7 linked regions of the Homo sapiens genome follow. The protein of the gene in region 5 interacts with the protein of the main gene of each other region in a pairwise test. Each region holds a gene or a part of one and is shown on either strand. Other genes may lie near its edges.

Region 1 (3,500 bases), on a different chromosome or scaffold from region 5:
AACTATATTCAAGCAAACTGCTGTTGAAGGTGCATTAAAACAGACTTAAACACATTATTTGAAATAGACAAGATAGTCAAATGCAGTGGCTCACGCCCGTAATCCCAACACTTTGGAAGGCCGAGGCCGAAGGATCGCTTGAAGCCAGGAGTTGGAAAGCAGCCTAGGCAACATAGCAAGACCCGTCTCCATAAAAATTGAAAAATTAGTTGGGTGTGATAGCATGTGCCTATAGTCCCAGCTACTTGGGAGGCAGAGCAGGGAGGAATGCTTGAGCCCAGGGGTTCGAGGCTGCAGTGAGCTATGATCACACCAATGCACTCTAGCCTGGGTGACAGAGCGAGATCCTGTCTCCAAAAAAAATAAAGAAAGAAAATACACAAGACAAAAGCAGGGCCCATGTGAACAAGAGCATGTCATCAAGCAAGGACTAGGGTCAACCCAATTCTAGATCCCTGAGGGCCATTCAGAAAAAGGTTTAATCAGATTTTTCACTAAACATCATATCAGTCCCTCCTTGTCCAGCTTAAGCCCTAATGTAAACTCTTCTTGAGAGCCAGAACACACTTCCTTATCTCCACCAGAAGGCATCAGCAGACCCCAATCCCACCCCTACCCAGAGCGAGCTCTTCACTTCCTGAACTCCCAGAGCGCCTTGCCCATATTACCTGCATAGTTTTTTTCCACTTGCTCTTTTAAGTTTCTGTGTGCCTGTTGTTTGGCCTCTGTGGTCTTGGAAGGCTAGAAGCCCACGCTGTTCATCTTTTCTACCCACATCCTTAGCACAGTGCCTTCCAGCCAGCAGAGAGCACTGTGGCCGAGGGGTTAAAAGGACGGGCTCCCCCTCCCAGTCCTGACTCCCATTGTAGGGCAGCCACTCACTAACAGACTACCCAGAATTAGTCACCTCGGTTTTCCCATCTGGAACCGGGAGATCCACCTACCTGTGGTGGACACCTGGCATTTTATCCACCCTGCTCTTCCCAACTCCACCCTCCAGCCAGTATGCAGGTCCAGCAAGGCCCCTTGGCTCCCTGGTCTCAGAGTTCGGCATAGGACCTAACTGGGCCAATCAGGGCCTTCCCTGAGATTTTCTGAATTGGGTGTGGGGAGAAAGAGTGGGGAGAGCAGAAAAAGCGGCAGAATATTAGTGCAACTGTGAGACAGGAGATGAGAGCCCTAGGGGATCATGTTTCTAGGAAACATCTGAAGAAGGCCCATCTGAAAATGAAGCCAACATTCCCGCTGAGAGAAGCCAGGATCAGAAGTGGAGAGCAGATGGAGGAGGATTTGTGTCCCTGGTTCCAGGAAGTCCAGCTGCACCTGGGCCCTTCCCGCAGCTCAGGACCATCCCTTTCTGAACCAAGTATTTCAACTTCTTCCTGCCAGACCAACGCTTAGCACAGGGCCTGGCACGTGGCAGGTGGGCCACACAAATGGCAGTCAGTAGTCCCTTCAAACTTAAGCTGAAAATATGAAACACTGAGGAGCGGTGCATGGTTTTCCCCAGTCTGAAAACCCCTCTCCTTAAGAAGGTGCTAAAGGCTCCACGTGTACTCAGTAAAAGCTCAGGGCACAGGAGGAGAGGTCGCCCAGGGAAGACACCATCTCCCTTGAGCTGGGAGTCTGGAGGTCAGCTGCCAACTATGCCCTCTCCAGAGGTGTGAATCAAAGATCCCCTATGGGAATTGTGCAAAAATTTACTGGGAGTCAATGCTCAGCTAAGATCTAGGGTGGGGATACCCAGCTGCTTCCTCCTTTATTAACAGGAGGGGACATTATGGGGTCTGGAAAATGCTCTAACAGCCAGCAGCTTGTCACAGGGAAGCCCCCTATACCAACTGGCTCATTCACTGTCTCAAGTGGGACCCAAGGCCTGGGTGCAGTGGCTCATGCCAGCTCATGTTGGCAAAAGCCAACACCGGGCTGCCCAGAGGGGCCTTAGGCAGGGAGCAGCCAGCAGCCACAAACATCCAACAACCTCTCCTGAAGCTTCCCCAGCCTACCTCCCCAGACAGCACTGGGAAGAAAGAGCAAGAGTGGCTGCTGGCAGAAAGGGAAGGCAGGGAGGAAGAGGAAACAGCCCCTGAGAATATCCACAGCCTCAGCGGTAGCTCTCTGGCTAACGTCCAAGAAGTCAGAGGGACAAAAGAGACAGAAGAGAGAAAGTAAGAGAAGGGAATGAGTACTTCCTGAAGTCTACTGTGGCCTCAGCCTATCTTTATTGATCACAATAATCCTCGGGTTAGAGCCACCGTCATCCCATTTTCCAGATGAGGAAACTGAGGCTCAGAGAGGTTAACTTTGCCTCAAGTCATCTGGCAAGCAGCTTAAAGCCAGGACTCCAACTCTAGCCTGTCTGACTCCAAGAATGCAAGCTCTTCCCACAAGTATGCAGGCCCTCTGCTTTGCCAGGGGCTGCAGGGCTCCAGCCACTAGCTCCCCTGCGAGTGGGACTGCAGAGCTATCACCACACACCAGTGACAGTGGCCAAGTCCAGCACACAGCACACATGCACGTGGGTGTGCATTCCAGACACGAGGCTGCCCAGCCCTCTGTTCATCAGATGCTCTGCAATTCCCACTTCACTTCCAACTGCTCCTCTCCCACACCTGCAGCCTGTTCACCCCCCACCTCCACACAGAACCACAGAAACACACCCTGCCATGTGATTGAATCCAAGCAGAGCCCAGGTCACCAACAATACTTCCAGGTGACCAAGCTTCCCTTTTGCCTGAAGCTCTGTGTTAGCCCAGGGTTTCAAAGCTGACATGGGCCCTTGCTGCACTGTGGATTTGGTTTGTCTAAATCCAAAGTGCAGCAAGGCCCATGTCAGGTCCACCGTCCTAGCCAGACCTCAGTACCGACGCCTGAACCCCTAGCTGACTGCTGTGCTCACACTCGCCGCCCATGATCTCTGGCTTTCTTAATGGGATCTGAGGAGGCAAGGCCAGCAGAAAGCTCACCCACTTTTAGGGGCTGCCTGGAGCCAGCACCCATAACTTGGCTCTATGAAGCCTAAACAAGAGGCAGACAACTCAGAAGCAAGCAAGCTGTCCTGAAGACTGAAGACATCCCTGGGATAGGAGGTCCTGCCTCCCCTCCCACCCAGCCCTCTGCAGAGCACTGATGTCTAGCCCCTGTGACTCTACTTAACACAAGATAGGAGGTCCTGCCTCCCCTCCCACCCAGCCCTCTGCAGAGCACTGATGTCTAGCCCCTGTGGCTCTACTTAACACAGGATAAGAGGTCCTGCCTCCCCTCCCACCCAGCCCTCTGCAGAGCACTGATGTCTAGCCCCTGTGACTCTACTTAACACAGGATAGGAGGTCCTGCCTCCCCTCCCACCCAGCCCTCTGCAGAGCACTGATGTCTAGCCCCTGTGGCTCTACTTAACACAGGACCCTCGTGGCTTCCAGTTCTTTATTAACTCATGTTTCAACTCCCATACCGTCTAAAATCTTGAAAACACAAGGGCTCTAAAACGCTTACACAGCTTA
Region 2 (3,500 bases), on a different chromosome or scaffold from region 5:
CCTGACTTAGAGGAAAACCAAACATAAATAAACAAAAAGAAAAGAAAAAAAAAAAGGTGCCTGCCTCACGAGTGAGCACAGAGCAGCCTCATGCACATAAAGCCCCAGCACTGCCCCTGACGCACAGCACATGGCAACATGCAGCCGACTGCCTGCCGGCAACATTTGCATAAAGGTGGCCAAAAGCTCACCATCAGTGTCATTACTCTGGGACCAGGTCCTCCGAGTCTACATTTGACTCAAGTGCGGGTCAGCAAGACACAATCTGCCAACAAAAGGCATGAGGTCCTGGGGACTGCCACCAAAGGCCCAGTATGGACTTGACACCCCAGTTTGCTGGCCTGGCCCCTCCTGATCTCAGGACCCTAGTCATAAAGCCTCTAAGAGCCATCAGGGGTCTCCCAGGACAAAGGAATGGGGGTGCCCTGGAGAACAGTAACTTGTATGGGGTCCCCAGAAGAACACAGCTCAATAGTCCCCAACTTCTGACTCATGTGGTTTCCTAATGTCACCTGGCACCCCAACCCCTTCCTCTGAAGCAAAGATATTTGACCCATGGGGAAGCTCTGTTGAAAGGAATGAAATAAGCTAGAAGTAGGACTATCTGTCTGCAATTCTTGGACCTTGAAAGGTCCTTTGGGTTACCTGGCCCGCTGTCTGCACAGCACTGGCTCCCTGGCCAGCAGGAAGGCTAGCCTCCAGGCTAAGCCCCCCATCTCCGAAGCCTGCGCCCCCATCTGGGAGCTCTGGAGCAAAATCATCCCCTGAGAACATCCCAGAGGAAAGTAGGCAAGCCTTACTGTCAGAGAGAGTTGGGTTCAAACTCCAGCTCTGCCACAGACCCACCGTGTGCTCTGGGACAAGATACTACTGTTCTGAGCCCCCATTTCCTCATCTGCAAAATGGAAATGCACCTAGCTTGCAGAACTGTCTTAAGGAACAAAAAGAAAATGTGTAATGGTAGTACTGAAAGTACCTAATTGTTTTTGATAATAAATGGCCCCTGTTGACCCAGTTTGTGCTTTGCCAACACAGATGTCAGAGGGTCATCATGGCTGACTATGGACTAACTTACATGTCATGCATCAGCTCCATGAAGCTTCTCGACAACTTACAATGCAGGAGCTATTATTGTTCCATTTTACAGATAAGGAAACCGAGGCTGAGGAAGCTTAAACAATGCCTAAGTAACTTGCCCGAGGTCATAAGTTGGTACCTAGCAGCCCCTGGGCCAGCCCCCAACCCCCAGGGTTCCTCCAAGGGTCTCCAGACAGAACAATGCTCACTTGGCACAGCGGACCCAGTTGATATGCTGGCTCAGGGAGAACAGGAATTTCTGGCGATGAGTTGCCCACACTTTGACTGTCTTGTCGTCAGAGGCTGTCACGAAGGACTGGCCATCACTGCAGAAGTGGACACTCCTCACTGTGGCTGTGTGTGCACGAAACACAGTGGACTCACCTTTGCTACAAGGACAGGCATCCAAGAGTAAGGAAACCCATAACAGTGACATGAGAGCCCACAAGCACATCAAAGCTCTCCTACTCCTCAAGCACCCCTCCCAAAGTCAGTCAAGCCCGAGTACCCCAGTCTCCACAAGGGAAAGCCAGAGCCTCTCCTATATGAACAGAGCACCATCTCTAGGCCCCACCCACATGAACACAGCATCAGGTGGCATTTCTTTAGGGATAGATTGGGTAAGCCCAGAACTCCTCTTCCAACCCTGAGGGGAGGGCTCCAACTGCAGCCCCAGCCTCTGATGGCACCTCTTCCAAAGCAGAGTAGAAGTCCCACTGTGACCAGTCCAGAGCCAAGCTAGGGGACCTGGGTGGGGATGGCTCTGGCACCAGGGCCCCAGACTCCAACAAGCCTCCTCAAAGTGTACGACTCACACATTGGGTACCCAGATGCGGACAGTCTTGTCTCGGGAGCCGGAAGCAAGCAGGTGTCCCGAAGGAGAGAAGTTCACACAGGTGACGGCATCCTTGTGGCCAGTGAAGCGGTAGGCGCGTGACTGCGGCTTCATGTGCCAGACCATGAGGCATGAGTCCATGGAGCCACTGGCTGAGGACAGTGGGTGATGCTATGACCTACAGCTCTAACAGGCTTCAAGCCTCCACCAAGACATTGGAGAGGCAGGGGGAGCAACTGGCCCAGCTCCATCTTCCCTGGCATCCACAAACAGACCGTGAGAAGTCTCCCATGGAGCAGAGCACATCTCGAGGTATGGTCTGGAGGTGGAGAGCCTGTGGCCCAGAGTTCTCCAAGGAGCACACCCACATGGGAATAAGACCGAGGCCCTTCCCATGCTAGCCTTGGACTGCAATCCAGAGCTCTGGGAAAACTCATTCCCATGGGGCCCAGGGTCTCCCCCCAGACACATCCTGAGGGCACCAGAGAGCAAGTCCTCCCCAGCTGGGAAGCCAGCCCCTCCCATTGAGAGGGCCCAACTCAGTATGAAGCCTAAAGGAGGTCCCCAAAACTGATCAAAAATCACTTCAGTTCCCTCTTAACCTTTACACATCAGAGGGTCTTGATGACAGGATGAAGGGGCAAGCCTCCTCTGCAGGAACCAGAAAGCGCAGTCATAAAAGCTGTGTACGAAACCTCATGCAACCAAGGAAGGGGGACAGTCAGCTGCAGCATAAGAGCAGTGGGGTCGAGGGGGGTGCCCATCTCTGCTCAACAGCCTTCTCACTGACAAGGCTCTTCAACAAGGTGTGCCTTATTACTGTGGGCAACAGAATCAGTAAAGCTTCAAGGAAAAGGAGTCACTGTTTAGGGCCCACACCAAAAGACAGACCCAAAAGGTGGCTAGGGTGTGCAGAAAAGACCCAGATCCCAGTCCCACCCTCAAAAGCTCTGTGGCCTTAGCAAGGCCCCTAACCTCTCTGACCCTCAGGCTCTGCATGTAAAATGAAGCTCATGAAGCCCAGTGCCCAAAGAGCTGGCAAGCAGAAGCAAGACTAGAAGCAGGTCTAGACAAAGCTGTGCAGTCCTTGTGCTCTGCTTCCCACCCACCACCCCTCCGAGGTAAAAACTTGGCCTGTTCAGCTCATAACCTAGCACCTAGACAGGGTGCCTCTTCTTACCCAGCTGCTTTGTGTTGATACTGAAGTCCACACAGGTAACTGCATCTCGGTGGCCCTTAAAATGCCTTTCCAGCGAGGGGTCCTCCTGAGAGAGAGCCAGGGTCAAATGTGTGAAGCCTGGGTGAGGAAGGGGCTTCCCCAGGGCCAGCACTCTTCCTACAACAGCCGGGGGAGTAGGGTTAAAAATGCTCAAGGCATGATCTTATATAAAGAAAATCCTAAGGAATCCACTTAGGATTAGTTTTTACTAGGAATAGTTTTTACTATTTGAATTAATACATCAACTGTGGAAATGCTTCAACAAAAACAAAAAACAAATGAGTTCAGCAAAGTTGCAAGATACAAAATCAAGACACAAAAATCAATTGTCTTTCTGTACACTAGCAATGAATAATCCAAAAAATAAAA
Region 3 (3,500 bases), about 19 Mb from region 5:
GACGCTATGAATGTTACACTATTGAGAGTTTGAATTTTGTTCAGAGATTGCCTCCAAAAGAAAGCTGGGGTAATTGTCTTGTTAATCTCATTTGCTGATCTTTCTCCTTGAGATCAAATCTTGCATTGCCTACTGTATCAATACCTAAAAATAATTGTTCATATATTTTGTTGAGTCTTCTAGTCCTTCACGGTCAGAGGACAAGTTTTGTACTAGTTAAATCTTCCACGGCCACTTATTTTCTATGTTTAATTTTGTTTTCGAAACAAAATTTTTGCCCTAGGACAAACTTTCTCCATTTATCTACTGTTTATTTCACAAATAAGTACCTGATTAACCGATGCTCAATATAAAATGTTAAATAATACAGAAAAACATAGAGAAAAAAGATTCTATTTCAACCTCACTTTCTTTCAATTTTTAAAATTTAACCACTTATTATGTGTAATTCCAGATCTATCTAATTCCAGTTTTGTATCTCTATGTATTTTTACATTTGTTTTACATAAAAAACACTAAATGTATTATATATTTTCTATAATCTGGGCTTTTCTTATACCTTATTTTGTCTCAGAGATTTTGTTCATGTCATTATGTATAAAATGTTTCACTCTTTTAAACTGCTATTTATTTTCCCTCATATGCTTGTCTTTATTTAGCCATAGTAGTTGCAAATAGATACAAGTTATTTACAGTTTTTATTTTTATTTTTTCCCTATTAGGAATAATACTTTAATGAACGCCCTTGTACATAATCCTGTATATAAAATACTCTTACACACAACTTATGTACACATAAGAGCATTTTTATGAGGCCAATAGAAAAAGTGACAGTTCTGAGTCAAATGACATGCATTTTGATGCTATTAAAAATGGTATTGCCAAAGTCTTAAATTATAATTGTCCATTGCTGTTATGTAAAGACTACTGTATACTGCCCTTGCATCCTGCGAACTTGTTAAGTTCATTTATTACTTCTAAATCCTTTTTTGTATGTGGTATAGAGTTTTTTACACATATAATTATGCTGTCAGTAAATAAAGACAATTTTACTTCTTCCTTTGCAATTTTTATGCCTTTGATTTGCTTATCATTCAACATTTAAAACTAGTAAGAAAAGGATGGACTATTTAATAACTGCTGTTGAGACAACTGTATTCTATAGAAAAAGTTAGGCCTCTATCTCACACAATACATGCACATAAACACAACTGCACATAGACTGAAGGAAAAATATAACAAAACTTTTTAAATATTATAAATAAATTATAAATAATTATAAATATTATAAATAAATATAATCTTAGGTTGGGAAAGACTGTTCCAAGAACAACTCAGATTGCTAAAGTCAGATGAATAAATTTACTAATTTGACTATAAAAGCTTAAAATAAAACTGATAGAATGGTTGATGGCCACGGCAAAAACCTGAAACATTATGGTATTGGCTTTGGGACTGGGGGATGCGTGAGAAGGTGAGGAAGATGCACATGTCATTGAGAGACCATACATGTGGGTCAGAAGAGTGGTGAAAAAATTGATATTAGAAGCTGGAAAAAGAACCTCTATTATGTGAGAGTGGGACAATTATTATAGCAAGACTATTGCCTATGATCACTTGGAAGACTGAAAATGTACAGTGAACTTTTGAACTTGCCTAAGGAGATATCTAGAAAGGACATTAAAGTACCAATCGCATTCTTCCAGCTTAATTTGTTTTACTTCTTCTAGATTAATTTGTCTTAATTAAATATAAGGTAAATCACAGTAACATAATGCTTATTTAATTTTTAATTAAATGAAAATTATTGTAGAATTGCTCATTGTTGTCTCTATTATTTCTTTTGCTCTTCTTCCTCTATCTTGAGATCTTTGTTCCAATTTAATTTTTACTTGATTACGGCAAGTACTTTCTTGAGTACATTTCGTCAGGTAGGGTACATAGATGACATAACTAGGAGTCTTTACATGTCTGAAAATGTCTTTCTTTCATCCCAATCCCCAAATGAATCTTTGATAGAATTCTTATCTGTGGTCTTGAATCATTAGTAATTATTGTTTTTGTGTCTTTTGGGTTCCTGTGTTGAGCAGAAAGGGCATTCATTTCCTTGGCAAATAACTATTTTTATTTTCTGTCCAGAATAGAATCTTATGAGATTATTTTTCCTGTATTCTTGGAAGTTCACCAGATAATATCTAAGAAGTAGGTGTTAAAGGAAATTCTATATAGGACTCAGATAATCCTTTCTATTCTAAGCCATACTCTTTCTTCAGTTTAGAAGTTTTCTTCTAGGGTATTTCTTTATTATTATTCTATCTCTTCCCCACTCCCAGTCAGAATTCTGCAGTAACTATTATTCACATAACAAGTCCTCTGGGTATGTCCTCCATATTATTAATCTTATTACTCATGATTTCTATTCACATGTGTTTATGGATATTTCCTTTATTTGCCTTCCTAACATATTTATATTTCAGTAGTGACTATTCTAGTTTTTAATTCATCTATTACATTTTTAAATGGAAAATTATTATTTTTAAAAATTGGTTACAGTATTTTTTTCCTCTAGTTTTATTTCTGTAAAAGTTCACATTACATTTTTATTGAAGTTTGTATCTATTTCATCCATTAGTTCTAACTCCATAGTAGCCATCTGTTCTGGTTTCTTAGCTTAATCTCCTTCCTCCAAACTAACATTTCCTTAAATGTCTTGTGAAGTTTATCTGCCTATTTAATAGATATTCAGTTGTTTGATACATATACAGGGCTTTCTGCTCAGGTTACTTGGGCAGTGATAAACTGATAAGACAGTAAAAGGTACTTTCAATTTTCTTTTTCCCCATCAATGAGCCAGCAGTGAACATGTTGGCAAATAGGGATCTGTCTTTCAGGGCATGGTAAATAGACAGAATTATTGTGCAGTTTTGTTTTGCTTTTGAATTAAATGGAACCATCTCTATTGTATTCCAGCAGCACATCTAATGTTGGCTGTTGGTTTTAGAAACATATTCTTTATTATTAAAACACTTATTTCTTTCATAAACATATTTTAAAACAAACACTGCAGAACTTTATCTGACTGAAGTTTGGACAGGTATATACCTATGGAAAATTACTGAGTTGTACACTTCACACAGTTTATATACTTAATGTATATAATACAGCAATAAAAATTTTTACGTTTTTAATGAAAAAAGAAAAATATTTAGGAATAGCCAAAAAATTTTTCAATTACCTTTTCGATATTCACTGAGTCGATCATATGTATTTTATACTTTACCCTTCTGTTGTGATTTCCTATTATAATTATGAATTTATTGGGTACTTACTAATATACCAGATGATCATTTAATCTTCTTAGTTAACATATCAATAGGCATTATTATCCCTGTTACAGATGAGAAAACTAATATCTAAAGAGTTTAAGTAAGGTAAGAATATAAGTTTAAAAGTTTACATTTAAGCCTAAAGTAATACAGAGTTAGGATTTGAACTGTTGC
Region 4 (3,500 bases), on a different chromosome or scaffold from region 5:
AGCATCAATATTAAGACATCACCACCACTCATTGAAAATATTAATTTACCTGGCCAGTGAAACCTTGTCAATTTTCATAACTAATATAGAATGAATCTTTCAATTTAGGTCTTGTCACATAACAGTGGTAGATCAAAACCAAATCTATTTTAGAAATAAGCCATGTTTCAAAGATACATGTAACCATTATTTAGCTGTAACTGTACAAAGTTTTAAATAAAAATTGCATAATATAATTTCTCTTTCCTTTTGCCAGGACTAGTATTCTGAAAGCAGGACATATCAGACTCTGAGTCATATATTATTTGAAAAGTTATGCTTAATATTTAAATTTCCATTAGAATAAAGAAGAATATTTCATTATTTTCATACTATAAAATCTAACAAAATCATTTTGGCCACTAGAACATAATAATAATATTAAAAAATGCTGTACTTGGCCAGGCGCAGTGGCTCACACCTGTAATCACAGCACTTTGGGAGGTTGAGGCGGGCGGATCACTTGAGGCCAGGAGTTCAAGACCAGCCTGGCCAACAGAGCAAAACTTGGTCTCTACTTAAAATCCAAAAAGTAGCTGGGCATGGTGGCACACACCTGTAATCCCAGCTACTCGGGAAGCTGAGGCACGAGAATCTCTTGCACCCAAGAGGTGGACGTTGCAGTGAGTCGAGATCGCGCCACTGCACTCCAGCCTGGGTGATGACACCCAGAACGAGACTCTGTCTCAAAAAAAATGCCTATGCAAGGATATAAAAAATTTAGAGATCCTCAAAGGTAAAACAACCACATTCTGCTTTATCCAGAATACTATCCCTATACTCCCAACAACTATTTAATACCACCTCCACCCTTCAGATTTCATCTTCCTTCTTGCAGAAATTATTTCCATAAAGATAGAAACTATTACATTAGAATCCGCTCATCTGCTCACCACCAAATCTACAAACTCCCCCAGTATTTGCACCCATTCCTCCCACTCTTCCATCCTCCTTTTAAAGAACACTCACTCCACCTGTGCTAAGTATCCCTCCAATACCTGCCTGCTCAGGGACTTAATCCATTAGTTATCTCCTCTCTCTCGTACCTTCAGCTTCTTTATCTCTGACGAGACTTCTCAACATTCAGACATGCTCTCCCTATCTCCCACCTCCTTTGACTCTTGCACCTCCCTCCTCCTCAAAATCCCCTGCCATAATTTGTAGTGACCTGTTTATCTAATGACAGTTTAAGAATGCAAAGAACTAATTAGTGTATCTCTAATGACAGAGATAAATAGGTCACTACAAATTATGGTAAAGGCTTTTGAAACTTGATGTCGAGTTTTGAAACTTGAATTAGAAACCTGATGTTGAGTAGCACCAAGTCTATTTTATTTACCTCTATATACCTAACACAGTGTGCCTGGTTAGTAGTAGTAAAAATTTTGGTGGACCACTGAATAAAAAGCACATAGCCTTGAATGAATGAAATGCCTTCATTTTCTATAGGTAACTAAATGCAATGTGACACTTTGACACATGGCAAAAAAATGTCCGTTAAGGATGTGTAATGACATCTCAGGTTACCTTAACTCATTCCCCTTGGCCAATTATTGATGAGGAGGATCAAGACGGTTGATGGGTATAAGACAGACAGCTGGGTGGTTTGAAAAATTCTGAAGGATACATTTGTTGTCTGCATAGTCACACGCCATACTTTAATTGAAAAACTAGGATTTCAGCTAAAGACAAATCTGTGCCTAAGATGTAAGCAGAGGGAATGTAGGAGAGGTTCCATCCAACTGTGATACTGGTAGGAAACTTACTAATATCATCCTTCTTGCTCCTCAAATGATATCTGTTAGGGGTTCGTTTATGGAAGTCTTCAACTTGCTGTGCAAGGGGCACATATGTAGAAACTGTTTCATCAAATGTTCTTTTCTTTCCTTGGGACAGGTTGAAAGGCTTAACAATGGTACATCCCTTAGTCACTCGGGCCTGTAAAGAGAAAAGTTGTTCCCCAAATGAAATGTCACGGAAGAGCTCACATCTACCATAAGCCACATATTCGGCACAGAGGATCAATAAAAAAGGCCTGTGTAAAACCAAGATTATTATTCTGAAGTTTGTCAGTCCTTGAGCAAGGGTTATAACTAATCTGTTCTCATTAAAAAAAATTAAAAATGGAAGAAAGGATCTAGCACTTAACAAATCTTATGTTCTGGAATAGTACATAGGTAATTTCCCCCCAACCATGTCAATGTTTTGAAGGAATCCAGAGTAAGCTATCTTAGAATTGAAGACAAAAAGCACTGCAAAGAAATCTCACCCTCAACTCCACTTTAAAAAAAAAAATTGATTGGGCCTCTGGGTATGCATCAGGTCAGGCAGCTTCCTGAATCAGTGGAATCTCTCCATACATCCCCTAAAGAGACTGATGAAGAAGCCTATTCCTATTCCTTGGACCAGTAATTTTGATAAAACTGGTCTCTAATTGGAAGCAAAACCCTTCAAGGACCTGTATCTCAAAGAAAGAAGCATAACCTCAGGGTTTAAGAATGCAAATAACTAATTTCAAAAAATGATGATACTGACTACAAATGCAAGTGGAGATTATTAGTACTAGCATTTTTACTTAACGATTATTACTGATTTTGTTGGTGCTCTGGTAACAAAACTGCATGAGATTTGACTGGTCTGCCCCAACCCTATTTTTCCTATAAGATCTGTTATATTGGCCAGGCATGATGGCTCACACTTGTAATCCCAGCACTTTGGGAGGCTGAGGCAGGTGGATCGCCTGAGGTCAGGAGTTTGAGACCAGCCTGGCTAACATGGGGATACCCTGTCTCTACAAAATACAAAAATTAGCTGGGAGTGGTGGCAGGCGCCTGTAATCTCAGCTACTTGGGAGGCTGAGGCAGGAGAATTACTTGAACCCGGGAGGCGGAGGTTACAGTGAGCCGAAATCGTGCCATTGCACTCCAGCCTGGGCGACAAAAGTGAAACTCCATCTCAAAAAAAAAAAAAGATCTGTTATATTTTACACAACTTTATAGACACAAGGTTTTTTTTCTCAATTATACTATTATAAACAGTGACCACAAATGCTACACGTAAAATCCTAAATGAATATTAGTAACAGAAATGTTCATTTAGTCCATCAACTTACAGGAGATGAAGGATGCTTTCGTAGTTCAGATGTAAAGTTCACTTCCTTATATTCCTCCTGGTTCTTAGGATGTTGTTTGATTCGCTCATCTGTGCGGAAGTGGAAGTCAACTGATTTGGTGACCTGGCTCACTGATTTCTTCACAGGTTGCCCTGAGAGATGAACACAGTAAAACATACAGACAACATTAAGATAGGGAACACCAGTAAATCCCCTTTACTCCAGTCCTTTTGCTATTTCTGTCACCATGGATCTAACTTTGCTTACTATCTACCTGTAACCCAAAACTTGAAGTAGTCCTCAGGGACACTAATATATGTGTCATATTCACTGAGTACTATTAGGTTTG
Region 5 (3,500 bases):
CTTCCAAATGAGATTTTTATGCAGAAAAACACGACCCAAAGGATGAACAACTTTAAAAAAGACATTATCGAATTTAAATTTATTTTAAGACAAGGTTCTAACTTGACATTTAAAGTGCAAGCAAGTACTGTGGTAAGCAGTGTTACAAACTAAAAATTCAATTTAAAATGTTCGCATCCTGTTCAAAACCTTCTAAATCTTTGAACCACAGCAGCAAGAATACAACACGGAGTGCCAGGCTGCCCCAAAGTCAGTCACCCTTTTCTACATGTGCTAATAAGTTTGATTTTGGAAGGACAATGTGTACATTCCCCAGACAGGCAGAGTGTGTGTGAAACACGCTAGTCCATGCTGTGCTACTCAGTGAGCGTCAGTGGGGACAGGACAAGCTGAAAATGGCTCTCATCTGTCTTCTGTGCTCCAGACAGAGCTTTAACTCCTTCAGAGCCTTGATGAGAAGGGGATGGGATTGGAAATCAAAACTGGAAAGTAGCTCAACACATTTTTATCTTGCCTATGTTTTACATAAAACGTGCACACAACTATATAGAAGTACCTTAGGAAGAGTTGTTTCACATGACGAGAAAAAAGTTAAAAACAATCTGAATGCCCCTAATCATATAAAACACTCTGAGAGGAAATTTCTAAAAGAACCACAATAATAATAATAATAATAATAATAATAATAATAGTGGTTTTTGTTTTAAATGCAAGGACACTTTAAGATCTTACCTTAAAAATACACTGTATATATAAACTATAGTCTCTCCGTGTTTGCAAAACCTTAAGTAAATGTACATATATTCATTATCATATTCTAGGCGTTCATTATAGTCCTTTTTCTCAGTACTGCAGAGTGTTAAAAAAAAAAAAAATCTGAATGTCCCCTAAGGAGTTAAACAGGAATAGTATATTTTCATGCATCTCCTGCTTTGACAGATGAAAAATGTCAACTGTCCTGTTTTTATTTTCAAGCTTTTGCACTATTCATCTGGTTCATTAGTGCATCTCGATGCTGCCCCTGACAGCTGCTCGCCCTCTCCTCCCAGCAGCTGAATTTTTCAGGCTAATTTGATCCTCCACACTGAGACGATCGCTAGAATGATTGACTTACTCCCTGACCTCCAGGGTCTGACTTTCCTGATTAGTATTCTGGGGGTGTCGGAGGGACGAAAGCCCACTGTCTGTCTTCGGGGCTGGTGGCAGCTCTCTTTTTTTTTGAACTGTAAGCCACCAACCTACAACCCTGTAAGGATGCAATTGCTGCGCTGAACAATAAAGGAAATGTGTAAAACCTACTTTTCCATGTAAAGGTCCGTGTAGCAAAAGCACAGCATCTTGATTTTAATTAGTAAAGTCTACTTTGTTGCATATCAATTAAAACTGTACTGCTAGTTTTTTTTTTTTTTTGAGGTTTCAGGAATATTTGAAAGTCTAATTTTCTGAGTTTAAAATACATTTTCAAAAAAGGCTTCCTACGTCTTCATTGTTAATAGTAATTTTTTAGTGGGTACAATACAAAATACGTGATGTTATGACCAATTTTTAAAAGCCAAACTGTTAGCTATTTCTATTAACAGTACATTGAAACACAACTGAAAGGAAATAGAACATAAATTTAAATTAAAGCTTTAGAAAAATTCTAGTTCTTCTAAAAGATTTGCATGGAGAAATCAAGAAAATGCGTTGAGATGAAAACTAACATTAGCATGATAATACTTTAACTCAAAATCATCCACAATACATATAACTCATGGATGTAGAAATGTCCAAAGATGTTATTTTTATTTTTGTGGCATTTTAAGTCCATACAAAAATGGGACACCGTCTCTCAAAGGCAAATTCAAAATGTGATAAATTATTTCAGTTTTGACATGAGTATGCTAAATCTAAAAGAATTATGCAAACTTCCTCTCAAAAACCACTTACTACCTCAACAGAACTTTTTCTTTTTTATTGCTAAATTTAATCTAGTTATTGGAAACCAATTTGCTGTTTACTTTTAGGGATTTGAAGAGAATATGTTGCTTTGATAATATTAGACTATGGCCTAAAGGAATCTAAGGTTAACTAAACAAATATAAAATATTTTAAATGTACAGAGTGACTAACTTTTAAACATTATAGTAACAATATAAACAATCCAGTTCTTTTTAGGATTGTACCAAATTATTAACAAAATATAACACAGTGAGCGTAATTTCTTGTAATCTCGTGCACATATAAAAACATGTTTTGTTACATTACTGACTCATAATTTTTCATAACAAAAATTATCCAAAGTATGAGTTTATTTAAGAATATTTAAAAATCCTTTCATTTTAAGTAGTTGTTAGTCACTTTAGTAGGAAGGACAAAACAAATAATTTCAGGTTCCTTAAATTAAGGAAATTTGAATCTGCAATGAATAAAATAATAAAAGATCATGACATACATTTTTAAAGAGTCAAAAAACACCTCCTAATGCTCTACTTCCAAGTAATGGTGGTACAATTAAAATAGATGATTTCATCATATATTTCATTTAATTCTGGAGGACAAGAGACAGGAAATATATATAGTAGGAAATGCATTGGTTTCTATTTATCCTCTTTAGACTTCTCTCATATACACAGAGATATGAAAATGATTCCTACACAGGGATATGAAAATGCTTCCATGTATTACATTTCCTCACTTTATTAAAACCTACTTAGATATAGACTAATTTTTAATTAACAGCTTTGACTCGAAGCCTATATTCCTAGGAAAATTATCATTCAATTAAAAAAACAAAATTACAGAAGTCACTAGCTTGAGATACTTTTATACCAACACAGATGTAAAATGTGTTACTAACATGCTTTCTTTTATCCACCCAAATTATTACAGTGCAACATTTCTAGAGGACCTACCTACATGATTCCATCTTCCTTTGATAAATGATCACCAGTAGAACAAAAGAGAGAGTATTTCACTGAGCTTTACCAATACAAATTGTTACTCATGGAAACTAAATTGATAACCTAGAAGAACTATCTGTTTGCATACTATCCTTAATGCTAAATTACACCTGTGTAAAAGTGAAATAAAATATTGATAAAAATATTTACTATACTTTCATATATTAAATCCAATCCATTATGCCACTCCTGTAATGCATGGATCAAGATTTACAGATGTTCAAACGTATATTTTTACAAATGCAAGATATAGAGAAAGGCGTTATATTAACATAAAAGTTAATGCTTTAAAAATAAACTTCTCATCAAAAGAACACAATTTAAAAATATATTAGATGTGTAGGAATGTATAGTTATTAAATTCCATTATACAAAGTTATTAACCCAACGAAAATTCTTCACAATTAAAAAGGTGATTCTTAAACATCCAGAAAAAAGTAAGTATATACTATAAGGATAGAGGAAATATACTAAGTAAAACTGCATCAATATTTGGAATTTATCAACATTACCTACCTCATATAGTAGACAGCCAAGAGACCAGATGTCAGATTTGAA
Region 6 (3,756 bases), on a different chromosome or scaffold from region 5:
GGCAGGAGCCCATCAGATAGCTCGGCTGCCTTTCATCGCCTTGTCCCTGATAAGGATCATCCTGGGTGAAGTAATCACTGCCAATCACCCCCAGCTCAGTCACAGGCAGGGGATGGACTGACATGCACCCTCTATGGGGATGGAGTGAGGGAGCCAGTGCCTGGGAAAGAGGGAACCAGTGTTCTTAGCAGGGGAAGGGAAAGAAGGGGCTTGTATGTGGAAGAGGAAAGAGATATCTAGAAACTTCTCATAACCACAGGTATGAGACCAGGGAGGGACAGCCCGGGTACCAACCCAGAGGAAGAACCTCCCTCCTTCTGTACCAGCCACCTCTGGGGCAGGATCAGACCCCAGCTCCAACCCAACTCAATAGACATGAGGCTTTCCAAGGGGCTGCAGGATCACTGGGAAGCATCCACCCCACTCTGTGGCCCAGACCTGGTCCTCACTGCTGAGGGACACTGAGTCAAAAAGGAAACAGAGCTGGAACACAAAGGAAGCATGATGTAGTTGATGACTTTATTGCATAAAAAACACAGGCTGTTTCTCCCTCCTCCTACCCCCTCAAAGTGAGTTCACAGCAGTTAAAGAAAAAATAAATTCCTACATTTTTCCTCTAGGGGGACTGCCTAGAAAGACAGGCAGCCAAGCAGCCTAGATCTATAAAAGAGGGGAGCAGAAGAAAACCTATCCAAAGCCTCTACCCGCATACCTCAGAGCTTGGGGCTTCCATTGGGGGGAGCATCTGTGTCCACCAGCAACACCCATTTGGGAGTTCCCCTTAGGATGGCCACTGGAAAAGGCTGTCTTGGTGGCACAGGGAAGGGGTGGCTGGTTTCGATGGGTGGAGGAGAAAGGCATCTTACACCCACGGTGCCCTTCCTCTTTCCCCCTCTCCACCTGGCCAGGCAACCTGCAGGCACTGCCAAATCTCCTCCTGCCCCCAACCCTCTCAGCAAGGAAGGGGATCTCTGGTTGGGTTAGCAGGAGGTAGGGAAAAGAGAAAGAAAGAAAGAACATTACTTCTTAAACTACCCCAGGCCAATGAGTTCCTCGGGAAGGTCATCCTGTCCCTTTTAAGGAGGGCCCCTTTGTATACAAACACATATTCCCACCCAGATCCCAGCCCCCACTTCCCATATAGCTCCCAGACCTTGGCTGGGCTCCAGCATCTACAAAGGAGGAAGAGATGCTGGGCCCAGATCCCAGGATCTTGGACATGGTGAATAAGATGGGGTCTCCCTGGCTAGAGACCCCAGGCTCAGTAGAGAAACACACATACATGCACACAGGTACACACAACATGCACACACATAACCTAATATTAAATAAAATACCCTTTGCTTATAACTTAAAAATCAATACACAGCTAATCTCTGCAGAGGGCTCCGGGTGAAGAAAGGGAGCGAGGGGAAGGGGGAGGGGTGTCAGAGGGACTGTAAGGCCCCTCTCTTGAGTGTGGGAAAGCCCTCCGGCTGCAAGGGCTGTGGCCTGTCAGACCCTTCCTCATATCAGCTTCTTTCCCCTCTGCCTGGCTCAGCTTCTGCTGGGCTTCTCCCCTCCCTCCTTTCCTCTCTCCCCCACCCCATGATCAGAATCAAAATGTGTTTCTAGCATCTAAAGGAGAAGGGAATGGGGACAGCTTCCTGGATGTCACCTCAGAAGGCAGAACCCCTTCCAGTGGGAGAACAACTCTTTCCTCTCCCTTCCCCTGTGAGATGAGGGGGAGGAAGGAATCCCCTAATGAACATGCTATGGCAGGGGCAAGGGAAAGACAAGGGCCAAGCTAGAGAGACAGTGGGGTTTATTTTCTTGGTGACAGCTAAAGAGATGGTCAGGTAGGCTGCAGGCCTCCACTCTGAGTGGGAACCAGTGGAGGTCCCTCTGATGAGACACCCCCAATCTGCCCTCAACCAGCCCAAGAAACCCTCTTCCTTCCATCCCTGAGGGGAAGGCAACTGGTGGGAACTACATGGATTCTACCGCTGGCTGCCTTGAAAACACACCTAGGGTAATAGATGGGGAATGTGAGACTACTGAACTTTATTTATCATAGACCAAGAATTAAGGGCTGAATCAGAGGTGGAGAGGGAAGGGGTTAGTTCCTTCCATACCCCACCAAATCCCTATCTCTCATTTTAGAAGAGGACTTCCCTACTCGCCCCCTCCATCTATCTCGGTCCTTTATCGCCAGCCCTGGCTGGGAGGCTGTCAGGAATGGCAGCCCTCTTTCCCTCTTCCTTCATGGCTCCAACAGACTGGGTCTGAAAGGGTTAATAAGGAAGCTCATCAAAGGAGTTATTTTTACAGCAACAACCCTCCAAACCAGAAAGAGACACCCCTGCCAAGGGGGACCCCCAGGCTCCCCCATCCCATCTCGGCTCTCCCTCCGGAAACCCTAGGGGCAGAAGCACTTTAAGTGGGATGAAAGGGACCCCGCCGCAGGGCGGCTCCGGAGGCGCTTTTATGTCCTGGTTCCCAGGCGCTAAGGACGTGTCCAGACAGCCACCACCAGCGCCCCGGGCCGGCCCCACTTCTCTCTGCTCCGGGGACTGGGACTTGCTGTCTCCTCTAGCCTGTCCCCGCCAGCCAGCCGCGGTACGGGTGTCCCACCCCAACCCCCCAGCCCAGGGGCGAGGGAAACTGTGAGGCAGGGGAGAACAGAGGGGCATTGCGCAGCTCCTACCGACCCAGTCAAATTCATCCTGCCTAGTAGCCCCAGAGACTAAGAACCCCTAGCGCCCCATCTCCCTGTCCCTGCACCACTTTTCCTCCTCCCTGAATAAATACGCACCTTCCCCTCTTCCTCAAGCCACCCCCAAGGACGTCAGACCTGGGGGCTCGCATCCAGTGCCCCCCGGGATACCCGCAGGGAGGCGGCACTGAGGAGCTCAGTTGGAGGGAGCCACGCTGCCCTCGGCCTCGCGTTTGCCTTTGCCCCCGGGGGGCTCCACTGCGCCGCCGGCCTTGCCCTCTCCCGAGGCCGCCCCAGCCGCCTCCTCCTTGGCGCCCTCGTGGGTTTTCATGTGCTTGGCCAGGTGGTCGCTGCGCATGAAGACGCGGCTGCAGACTGCACAGGGGAACTTCTTGGTGCCGGTGTGGGTCTGGAGGTGGCGCTGCAGCTCGTCCGAGCGCGTGAAGCGCTTGCCGCAGAAGAGCCAGTTGCACACGAAGGGACGGTCGCCGCTGTGCCAGCGCAGGTGCGCCTTCAGGTGCGACGTCTTGGCGTAGGCTTTCCCGCAGCCCGGGATGTGGCAGTTGTGCAAATGCTTCTTCTTGCCCCCATCGGGCCCACATGGAGCCCCCAGTCGCTCCGCCTCCAGACAGTTGGGGCAGCGACAGACGGTCTGGCCTGAGCTGCGGGGCACCGACCGCCGGGAGCCTTTGGGACGCGCCGCCCCGTCCAGGCTGGAATCCAGCCCTTGAGACTCCGGGGCGGCTACTTCCAAGGCCTTAGCCCCGTCGGGCGGCCCTAGGAGATGCTGCCCTCCGGCAGCTGGAAGGAGGTGGTGCGCATGCGGGTGGGGTGGCGGGGCACAAAGCTGGTGGTCTCCGACGTAGCCCCCCAAGCCCGCCTGAAGCGCCCCCGGGTGGCCAGGTGAGGTCAGCGCGCCCTGAGTGTGGGGGAGGTCCATCCAGCTGGTGCCCGGATGAAGGTCCCACCACGAGCCATCCTCCGCGCCTGGGTGAGTCGGCCTGAACCACGATTCATAATGGTGTGACATGTCCGGCTGCAGGAGCTTGGAAAAGGGGCCC
Region 7 (4,073 bases), about 89 Mb from region 5:
TTTCCATGAAAAAAATACAGGGGTGAGTAGGGGGCTGTGGGAACCCTATACTTTCCACTCAGCTTTGCCGTGACTCTCAAACTGCTCTAAAATTAAAGCATTTTAAAATGCAGAGGGATGCTGGCTTCTGGAGATAAGAAGGTAGGAGTATGATAGGTGGCAGTGTCCATGGCATGTACAACACGTATAGAAAGATGGTTTGCTAAGTCTGGAAATCATGTAGGACCTGTAGTATGTGACTAGCACCTGCTGTGAGCTGGCCACTTTCCTATAGATTGTATCATTTTATCCTCAACACAATCATGGCATCATCCCTTGTTTCATAGACTGGGACTTGAGACTCCGAGTCGGCCATTTGCCCAGAGTCCCAGCTGGTGAGTGAGTGGTACAGCCAGAAGTCACACGCAGGTCTCTGAGCTCGCCTCCCTCCACCACTGCTGCCTCTCCCTTTATTTGTACTTCATCTAATAGGCAAGGCAGCCATTGACAGCTCTCAAAGGGGGAAGTGCTGGCCTGACCTAAAAATAGCTTACATTTATCAAGCACTTAGTCGGCTACACTCTGCTAAGCACTTTACAGAGATTACCTCTTTAATCCTCACAACGACCCTATGGTTATAATTATCTCCATTTTACAGATGAGGAAACAGACTGAAGAGAGACTGTGAGGTGTTGTGAGTCACACAGCTAGTTGGTGACAGAGCCCCAAGTGGCACCTGGGCAGCCAGTGCGAGTGCAGTCTCCACCTACCACTGCGCTGTGCCCGCTGCCCCCGGGGAGCGGGGGAGGATGGGACAGGCCCTGTAAAGGTCGAGTTGATAAGACTTTACAATTCATTGAATGTGGGAGCAGAGGGAGAAAGAGCAGTTCAGGCGTTGCTGTGAGTCAGCTAATCCTGGGCCCCTTCTTTGGGACCTGAATGCCCCACGGGATGAACTGGAGGTCAGGAGCAGAGATGTCACTCAACCCTCCCTACAGAAATTAGAGGTCCCTTTTGGATGGTGTGTTCAAGCTCTCCCTCCCTGGTGCTGTGGGGGGTGTCATCTCTCTCCCGAGATAACAGGGACACCTCAGTCCTCCTGGGGCTATTCTGGGCTGCTGTCTGATCCTCCTCTCTCCCCCAACCCCTACTTCAGCCTTTCTGCTGGGCGTAGCTGAGTGGGGAGGGCCAGCCCAGTTACGTAACCCTGTGGCTGGGACCCGGGAGGCCAGCCTGGGAGCAGGTGCTCAGCCCCTCCCTCATCACCAGCAGTGAAAATCTAGAGCTGGAGCTCAGCCTCTGGGAAGGCCCAGCATGGAGGCAGCCACAGCTCCGGAGGTGGCCGCAGGATCCAAGCTGAAGGTGAAAGAAGCCAGCCCAGCGGATGCTGAACCACCCCAGGCTTCACCTGGACAGGGGGCTGGCAGCCCCACTCCCCAGCTCCTGCCCCCTATAGAAGGTGACCCATGGCAGGTGGGGAGGGTGGGGAGGCCGGGTGGTGGGAGTTGGGGAAGACATCGCCACCTTCCTGAACGGCGCCTCAGGTTTTCTGCAGAGCTAAAGACTCTATAGGATTGGTGATTAGGCTGGAGATCATTCGTGAGAGCCCCCATCCCCTGTCCTTGATGGAGTCTAACTTGCTGCTCAAATGTCCCTGCTAAGTTTTTGTGTTTTAGCTGAGAAGTCAGTGATGGTGTTGGTGGCACTTTACAGTGACTAAAAATGATCTGTTTATATTTTTACCTTTTAAAAAATTGTCATAGGGACTGGGAAGACCTGATATACTAATGGCCAGTCAGGAAGGGACTGAGGGGTAAGAGATAGTGACTGTCTGCTGAAGGAACAGGGAAATAAAATGCTATGGCAATGGGGAGGCTAAGAGTGGGGCAGCACAGTGACACTCGGCCTCCTGCTGGGCAGTACCACGGGGTCAGGACCTCCTCCAATCCCCCACTGCTCCCATAGGAGATCCTGACCCCTCAGAGTCTGAGCTCCACGGAAGTGGAGCTCTCCTGGGAGAAGCATTCAATTTCCCCTTCACGATGGTCTCTGTGTGCCTCTCAGCAAAGAGGCGTTCCCAAGTGAGGAATTCCAACCCCGAGCTTCCTGCCGCCCATCCCTGAATGCCCTGGCTGAGGCCTCTGTAGCTAACCACTTCGTGGCGCTCACCTGAAAGTCTTAAGAGGATGAAAAGACCACAATCAAGAAACACGTGGACTCCTAGGGCAGGAAGAGGCAGGGGAAAAGATATACTAGACTTGGAGGCAAAGCTCTAGGCTCAATTCCTAGTGCCGCCTCTAACAGCCCTGTGACCTTGGACAAGTCACTGGACTGCTCAGTTTCCATTTTCACTCTGTAAAATGGTGATTAATAACATCTACCTATCAGGGTAGTTGAAAGGATTGCTGAGATGATCCAGGGTGCCTTGGAAGAGGCCAAACTAAGATGTAAATAAATGATCAAATATTTCCAAGTGAGAGGTGAAGGCTGCGTTCTACCTCCATAGGGTTGTGCAGCAGACTCTGTCTGCCTCTTATCCTCATGGGAGAGGCCAGGTTTCCAGAAACTATTTGAATGTCAAGGGCAGAGAGCTGGCCAAGTTTGTCCCGTTGAAGATGAAGGGAGCAAAAGTTAGTGTAAATATATTAAGCTGGGGTGATGGAGGCAGAAAACCAGTTTCTTCCCTTAAAAGGCCCAGAGAATAAGTGACAGGCAGCAGGAGAATGAGAGCCAGGACTGCTGACGCCTCAGCTCTCTCTACTGGTCTTCCCAAAAGCACAAGGGAGAGTGCTCATCTCCCCCATGCTTCTCCCCTCTGGCTGCAGCCAGCTCCTGACAGCCCCCAGTCACGGGCCCGCAAATGCAGCCCAAAGCCTCTCGTGTGCAGCAGCTCTGTACACTGCAGGCCTCAGGGCCACTAGCACCCAGTGGCTCAACCCAGTGGTATCCCAGAAGTCACTGGCAATAAGAACACCTTTGAATACTTTGCAAAATATATGTGCATCTGTTAACTACTTGGAACAAAGAAGTCATGAGTTCAAATCTTAGCTCTGTTCTGTGGCCCTAGGCAAGTCAATCCACTCCCATTTTCTCATCTGTAAATTGAGGAGTTGAACCAAATCAGGGTCTTAACCTTTTGGTGGATATGGACCCCTAGGAAAATCTAATGCCAGCTGTGGACTCTTGCCCCTGGAAAAATACACAAAAAAGTTCAGAGAGCCAACAGAGCCCCAAACCCCCACCAAAGATCCTTCAGGGTGCAATGCATGGGCCTGGACTAGATGACCCCTAAGCCCCCTGAGAGCTCCAAAGCCTTTCTTCCTCCTAACTCCTCTTCCTTACAGAGAGCTCTGGGACTGAGTATCACAGGAAGCATGTGAAAACATGGGAACTAGAGCAGGCATCAGAAATAGAAATTAATTTGCAAGATCAAAACCAACTGCAAATGGCCAACAATGAGCTTTTAGTTTGGCAAGCCTGCTACATGGCTAAATAAGCAGGAGTAGGTGGCCAGCATTGGTAAACAGTTCTATGTCTGTCCTCAGCACTACACTGAGTACTGTGTCCTGGAGACAAAGCTTGGCAGGGGCCAGAGAAGAGCTTCCAAAACAGGGAGAGGCTGGGGAACAAGCTGCATCCCTCCCATGGACAATGTGACACTCGGCCTCCTGCTGGGCAGTACCACGGGGTCAGGACCTCCTCCAATCCCCCACTGCTCCCATAGGAGATCCTGACCCCTCAGAGTCTGAGCTCCACGGAAGTGGAGCTCTCCTGGAAGAAGCATTCAATTTCCCCTTCACGATGGTCTCTGTGTGCCTCTCAGCAAAGAGGCGTTCCCTGGGACCCTGAGGTGGAGGAGAAAGAGCCCATCTGCTGACTTCAGCATCATCGCTCCAACTGACTCTGTGTTCTCTTTCAATCTGAACTGTTCTGTGTCTTCCAGGCATGGGAAACTGAATCTCATGCCTAGGAGTGACCTTTCTTCCCTCCTTCCTTCCGTCCTTCCTTTCCTCCTCCTTCCTTCCACAAATATTTAGGTTGTGCCTATGATGTGCCAGGCGCTCTTCTAGGTGCCAGAATTACAGAAATGAACA

What was found.
Region 1: the proteins of NEK7 (region 5) and PSAT1 interact in binary tests that used the Homo sapiens proteins (3 or more experiments, as listed by UniProt).
Region 2: the proteins of NEK7 (region 5) and POC1A interact in binary tests that used the Homo sapiens proteins (3 or more experiments, as listed by UniProt).
Region 3: the proteins of NEK7 (region 5) and SPATA17 interact in binary tests that used the Homo sapiens proteins (3 or more experiments, as listed by UniProt).
Region 4: the proteins of NEK7 (region 5) and TPX2 interact in binary tests that used the Homo sapiens proteins (3 or more experiments, as listed by UniProt).
Region 6: the proteins of NEK7 (region 5) and SP6 interact in binary tests that used the Homo sapiens proteins (3 or more experiments, as listed by UniProt).
Region 7: the proteins of NEK7 (region 5) and MYBPHL interact in binary tests that used the Homo sapiens proteins (3 or more experiments, as listed by UniProt).

The regions. Positions count from the first base shown.
Region 1 is NC_000009.12:78,314,125-78,317,624, reverse strand, and holds part of PSAT1 (phosphoserine aminotransferase), read right to left. Parts: intron 1-3,500. UniProt on the Homo sapiens protein: Involved in L-serine biosynthesis via the phosphorylated pathway, a three-step pathway converting the glycolytic intermediate 3-phospho-D-glycerate into L-serine.
Region 2 is NC_000003.12:52,147,924-52,151,423, forward strand, and holds part of POC1A (POC1 centriolar protein homolog A), read right to left. Parts: intron 3,249-3,500; exon of another isoform or gene 3,178-3,248; coding exon 3,093-3,177; intron 2,065-3,092; coding exon 1,893-2,064; intron 1,467-1,892; coding exon 1,287-1,466; intron 1-1,286.
Region 3 is NC_000001.11:217,637,844-217,641,343, reverse strand, and holds part of SPATA17 (spermatogenesis-associated protein 17), read right to left. Parts: intron 1-3,500.
Region 4 is NC_000020.11:31,777,290-31,780,789, reverse strand, and holds part of TPX2 (targeting protein for Xklp2), read right to left. Parts: intron 3,304-3,500; coding exon 3,152-3,303; intron 1,978-3,151; coding exon 1,806-1,977; intron 1-1,805. UniProt on the Homo sapiens protein: Spindle assembly factor required for normal assembly of mitotic spindles. Required for normal assembly of microtubules during apoptosis. Required for chromatin and/or kinetochore dependent microtubule nucleation.
Region 5 is NC_000001.11:198,292,998-198,296,497, reverse strand, and holds part of NEK7 (serine/threonine-protein kinase Nek7), read right to left. Parts: coding exon 3,459-3,500; intron 1-3,458. UniProt on the Homo sapiens protein: Protein kinase which plays an important role in mitotic cell cycle progression. Required for microtubule nucleation activity of the centrosome, robust mitotic spindle formation and cytokinesis.
Region 6 is NC_000017.11:47,844,408-47,848,163, forward strand, and holds the end of SP6 (transcription factor Sp6), read right to left. Parts: coding exon 2,892-3,756; 3' UTR 501-2,891; downstream 1-500. UniProt on the Homo sapiens protein: Promotes cell proliferation. Plays a role in tooth germ growth. Plays a role in the control of enamel mineralization. Binds the AMBN promoter.
Region 7 is NC_000001.11:109,304,212-109,308,284, reverse strand, and holds the start of MYBPHL (myosin-binding protein H-like), read left to right. Parts: upstream 1-1,273; 5' UTR 1,274-1,293; coding exon 1,294-1,438; intron 1,439-4,073. UniProt on the Homo sapiens protein: Myosin-binding protein which plays a role in cardiac function. Seems to regulate conduction in the atria and ventricular conduction systems.